2 separate regions of the Homo sapiens genome follow, and region 2 is linked to region 1. The links come from fine-mapping of genetic effects on gene expression. Tissue or cell type: whole blood. Region 1 holds a variant in brackets; the other region holds the start of a gene. All regions are shown on one strand. Distances are from middle to middle.

The links. PIP is the estimated chance that this variant, and not a neighbour inherited with it, causes the effect.
Region 2: SCNN1A starts here. The variant in region 1 is fine-mapped to the expression of SCNN1A in whole blood (TOPMed, PIP above 0.99).

Annotation. Positions count from the first base shown.
Region 1 is chr12:6,344,596-6,347,433 of GRCh38, forward strand. It overlaps SCNN1A (sodium channel epithelial 1 subunit alpha), which reads right to left. Exons shown (of 13, transcript NM_001038.6): 13 at 2,252-2,838. It overlaps LOC112268088 (a long non-coding RNA gene), which reads left to right and starts at 1,209. Exons shown (of 2, transcript XR_002957396.2): 1 at 1,209-1,421; 2 at 1,770-2,483. It also overlaps the pseudogene RN7SL391P. RefSeq lists an enhancer at 1,282-1,782. The variant T/G (reference allele first, on the strand shown) is at 1,337.
Region 2 is chr12:6,374,156-6,376,655 of GRCh38, forward strand. It overlaps SCNN1A (sodium channel epithelial 1 subunit alpha), which reads right to left and starts at 1,408. Exons shown (of 13, transcript NM_001038.6): 1 at 1,350-1,408; 2 at 213-682. The coding sequence starts at 628. It also overlaps a transcript of LTBR not described here. RefSeq lists enhancers at 1-419, 2,236-2,500.

The DNA of each region.
Region 1 (2,838 bases):
AGGCTGAGGCAGGAGAATTGCTTGAACCCAGGAGGCAGAGGTTGCAGTGAGCCGAGATCCTGCCAGTGCACTCCAGCCTGGGTGACAGAGCGAGACTCTGTATCAAAAAAAGAAACCAACTTCAATGTCCTATTTTTTTTTTTGATAGAGTTTCACTCTTGTTGCCCAGGCTGAAGTGCAGTGGCACAATCTCGGCTCACTGCAACCTCTGACTCCCGGATTCAAGCAATTCTCCTGCCTCAGCCTCCCGAGTAGCTAGGATTATAGGCATGTGCCATCATGCCCGGCTAATTTTTTGTATTTAGTAGAGACGGGGTTTCACCGTGTTAGCCAGGCTGGTCTCAAACTCCTGACTTCAGGTGATCCACCCACCCTGGCCTCCCAAAGTGCTGGGATTACAGGCATGAGCCACCACGCCCGGCCTCAATGTCCTATTTTTAATGTTATAAGGTATTTCTAATAGTCTGTGCAAAGCGCCAAAGCCGTGACACATAGCCTGGTACAAAAGGAGAATATTTTTCAATATTTAGGATACATGCTTATTTACTCAATAACTTTACAACTTTGACACGTCATATTACATTTTTCAATAAAATTTTGTTTAAAAAAAAAGATGATGAGAAGTGAGTGGATCTAGGAATATGAAAAGCTAACACGTTTCGTGGAGGAGGTGAGAATGAGACCATCATCCCTCCAGGGACAGAAAAAAATCATGGTCAGAGGAGATGGAGAAACAGGAGAGGGGCAGACTAGGGATGACAGAATCGGCTGTTAGGGCTTGTAGAGCAAAGGATGAAGAAAACAGCTACAGAGAGCAGGGACCTTCCTCCCGCATCATGGCACACACACACACACACACATGCTTAACCCAAAGGGTCACTGGACTCCAAGTCCAGATGACGTGGGTTCTAGCCCCAGACCTGCCATTCAGACTCTATGTGTCACAGGGTGGCAGGGTGAGTCATAGAAAGGGAGCTGGGTTCATGGCAGGTTCTCTAAGAATTATGAAGCTCAGCAAGTCACTTCAACTACTAAGCCTGATAAGGAAAATGAGTCAACTTGAACCCTTTTATCGCTAACAGCCTGATTCCAACTCCTAACCCCAGGGTCCAGGAGTAACCCATAGACAAGTGAATGGAGATAAGGAGACAGCTCTGGGGAAAAAAGCAGGAGGCAAGAGAAGCAGGAGCCTGGGGGAGCTGACTGCAGTCATCCGTAATACATCTGGCTATGTCCGGCAGGTCCTCCTGCCCCAGCCAGAGGAGAGGGCACTGGGGACCAGGTGGGCCAAGGCTGAGGCTGAGGGGGCAGACAAGTGCCGTCTGCACCTGAGGGC[T/G]CTGACAGAGGAGACTGCAACACCATTTCCCCTTCATCAGCTCAAGTCCAGGAAAGGGAAGTCAGCAGTCGTCACACCGTTTCAGGTCATGACCCTGTCTACCTTCCTACCCCTGTCACCAGCTCCTTCTCCTCTTTCCCCGAAAGTCTCTTCCTCCTTTGGCTCCTCAGAACAGGGAGACTGCAATTAAGATGAATAAGACTAAGGTGGCAGGGACAGAATCCCCAAAGATGGTGAGAAAGGGTCACTTCTGGATTCCAGGTCTTATGCTGGAGTGGGGGAGAAACAAGGATCGGAGAGCTGGAGTTCCACTCGCACATCCTTCAGCCCCTCCCTGGACCTCAGTCTCTCCTTTACTAAAGCTGGGAGGATTCCCTGTGCCCCTCTCTGCAATCATGTACCAATAAGACCATATAAGGCTTTGCATTTCCAGGAGAAACTGGCCTGAGCCTCATCATCCTCCACCACCACCAGACAGCTGATGGGAGGCAGGCAGATGAGGGTTCATTGCCGCCAGGTGGTAAGTGGGACTCAGCAAGTGGAGTGGGGGATGGGGAGGTTAGTGATGATGGTGACTAAAGCAGAGAAGGAAAAGGAGGTTCAGACAGTGGAGAGGGCAAGTCTCCCCAAACACTGTGAGGTAGGTCCCCTGAAGGGGTGGCATCATGTCTTCCCCCTTCCACCCTAACATGGCCATGGGCACATAGCAGACGCTCAGCAACACCCATGGAGGAATTCACCAGAACGTTTGTCCCTCTTAAGACCCCGTGAAGAATGGTCACTTCCATGGTGCAGCCAAGGGGCATGGGAGTCTGTACCCTCTCCCAGCCCCAGGACCTCCCAGAAGCTTGGGTGATGACTTGTATCCACCCCCTACCCTCTTCATGATGCCCCATCCAGCTCTCCAGACATTCCTTCATGCAACAAACATTTATTGAGCTCCTGCCTACTTGCTCCAAGCAGGATGATGGGCTAGACATGGAGCATACATAAACGGGCAAGATTCAGTCCCTGACCGCAAGGCACTTACAGTCTAGTTGGGAAGGGAGACACAAATGTACAAGAAAGTATGGTGCAACAGCAACACTCCAGCAGATGTTATAGTGTGCTACGGGAGCCCAGGAGAAGGCGGAGTGATCAATTTTGGGGAAGACAAGATGTGGCAGAAGCGTTCACAAAAGTAATGGTGTCTGAGCAGGGTTCTAAGGGATGCATAGGAGTTCTCTGGCAGATGGTTGGGGAAACTTTCAGGCTGAGGAAATATCTCAAGCAGACATGTAGAGGTATGAAAGACACAGGGCAGAGGTGCCGGGGCATGGCTCTGTGAGGGCACGGGTATGAGGCTAGAGGAGCCCTGGGTCTGCCTTTACTTACCCGGGTCTGCTCTAGCCCTAGCCCTCGGGAGTCAGGGAAGGGGAATTGCCTAAGTAACAAAGGGGGCTTTTGGGTGGGGTTTCCCACCCAAGTTCAAGAGGAGGAGCAGACATCTGTGCTACTGGAGA
Region 2 (2,500 bases), 29 kb after region 1:
GAGCCTGGGGTGCTAGGATGGCTCCACTGGGCAGGGACGCCAGTCCAGTAAGCTGGAGGCTCCTCATTTTGCCAGCAGTGAGCTCTACCTGGGACAGGGGTGTCAGTTCCCACCCTCAGGTCTGAGGCTCTGCCTGCCCAGTGAGCACCTCAGCACCCTGGACCACCCTTCCAGGCGCAGGCACCAGGGAAGGGGCAGAGGGACTAACCGACCTGTAGGGATTGAGGGTGCAGATGGTCACTGCGGGGAAGACGAGCTTGTCCGAGTTGAGGTTGATGTTGAGGCTGACGGGGTAGCTGAAGTACTCTCCGAAAAGCAGGCCGAATTGCCAGTACATCATGCCAAAGGTGCAGAGCCACAGCACTGCCCAGAAGGCCGTCTTCATGCGGTTGTGCTGGGAGCACACCAGGCGGATGGCGCCGTGGATGGTGGTGTTGTTGCAGAAGAACTCGAAGAGCTCTCGGTAGGAGCGGTGGAACTCGATCAGGGCCTCCTCCTCCGCCGTGGGCTGCTGGGGCGCCGCAGGTTCGGGGCCCAGCCCCTGCTCCTCACGCTTGTTCCCCTTCATGAGCCCTGGAGTGGACTGTGGAGGGCTAGAGTCCTGCTCCTCCAGCTTGTTCCCCTCCATGAGACCTGGTATGGGCTGCAGAGGTCTAGGGTCCTGCTCCTCCAGCTTGTTCCCCTTCATGAGCCCCGGAGTGGATTGGGGAGAGCAAGGGTCAGGGTCAAGGCTGAGCTCTGGGCCCTGAGTGCCCTCTCCCATCACCCCTGGAACCCGAGTGAGGCTGCCCCTGGCCATGCCCATGTCCCACCCTGCGCCCACATTCTCCCACTCCTCCCTCCCTCCTCCACCTTTCCTGGAGCCAGCAGACCTGCGGGAGTTGGGGCCAAAAGTGCCGGAGCTGGGCTTCCCTAGAACGGCCTCTCCTCTGCTTCCCTGATAGGGCCACCTTTCGAGTTTTGTCCTAGCACCTCCCTTTCTGTCTCTGCCCCCTTCCTTTGGTCTTCTTCCTCCAGGATCTGTGTCTCAGCTCCTGCCTCTCACTCCCTCTCTATCTGCCTTCTGTTTCTCTTTGGGTCTCTCCTGCTCTCCTCTTTCTGGCCTGCCTCCTCTCTCTAATCCTGCCTCTCTTCCTCTCCCCCCCTTGCCTTGCCCCCTCTCACTCTAGGCCCTCAGCTCCAGCCTCTGGCCCTGACCTCGAGCTGTGTCCTGATTCTGTCTCTGCCCCAGGACTGCAGGGCTCCAGGAGGTCTGGGCTGCCTCCAGCTTCCCACTCCCAGGTTGCGGCTGGACTGGGACTGGTTCCTTTCCAGTTGAATCTGGCAGCCAAACCTCTCCTCCCCCTCACCTGACAGGTGCAGCGGCCTGGCTGGGGAGCCCGCCCGCTGGCCGGCCAGGGATGGAAGCGACAGGAATCTCATTAGCATCTCAATTAAAGGTGAGCAGGGCGGGGGGAGGGGCTGAGGAGGAGTCAGAGCCGGGAGTTTTCCGAAGGAAGGAGGGCTCCCGAGGGCAGGTGAACTGGGAGTACTGGACCTGAGAAGGCGGACTCTGGGCAGGGGCTTTAGACGCAGACAGGCAAGGAGGCTGGGGGACAGGATGGCAGGTGAGGGGCAAAGATCTGAACAAGTAGAAGGATCCTGAGCCCACAGCTAGGAGGGCAACACAAGGAGAAGGGGCCAGCCAGGCTGAGAGGGCCTGGGTGGGGAACCGGGAGGACAGGAGGGCAGAAAGAGGGAGACAATAGAGAGGGACAGCGAAGGACAGAGAGATAGGGATGGAGGAGGGGCACTGAGTGAGTAGAGGCAGGTGGGGGGCAGTGGTGGGGGCAAATAGAAGGAGCCAGCACCAAAGGGAGTCTGTCTCCAGGAAGGAGAGCAAGGGGGGAGTCCCAAGTGTGCTTCCAGGAGCTAGAGGCTCAGCAAGTGGGCAGCCCTCCAAGGGCACCCACAGGTCAGCCTCACCCTCAGGCCCTGCAGAGAAGAGAGAAGAGGTCTCTGCAGGTCTCCTCCCCGCTCACTAAGTGGGAGCAGCGCACTCAGGTGGGATGCGTCTGCCTCCTCCTGGTCCCTCCTCTTTCCTGCTGATTCCTCGCCACCCCCTCCAACCTTGTCCAGACCCGGGAGGGGCCCAGGTGAAGCTGGGGGCTAGGCGGGGCCCTAGGACATTCTGTTCTTTTTTACACTGTTGGCTGCCAGGCCAGGAATGTGTAATCGCCCCTGCTGTGGTCACAGAGTTGCAGGAATGTGGGCAACCAGAGGCAGCGCGAGGGCCACGCAGGACACTGTGGACACAGACCCGGAGCCCAGGAAGAGGCAGGGAAAGCAGGCACTGAAGGTGCAGGGAGGATGTGGCCAGCGCTGGAAAGGAAGAGGGTGGGCATGGCACACGCCTAGACAGGCCCTGGGAGGAGGAGAAATTCGTTGATGGGCTATATTTTCTCCAAAATCTCTTTCCAAACTTAATGCAGCAAAAGGATAAGGAGTGGAGTGCCAAGTG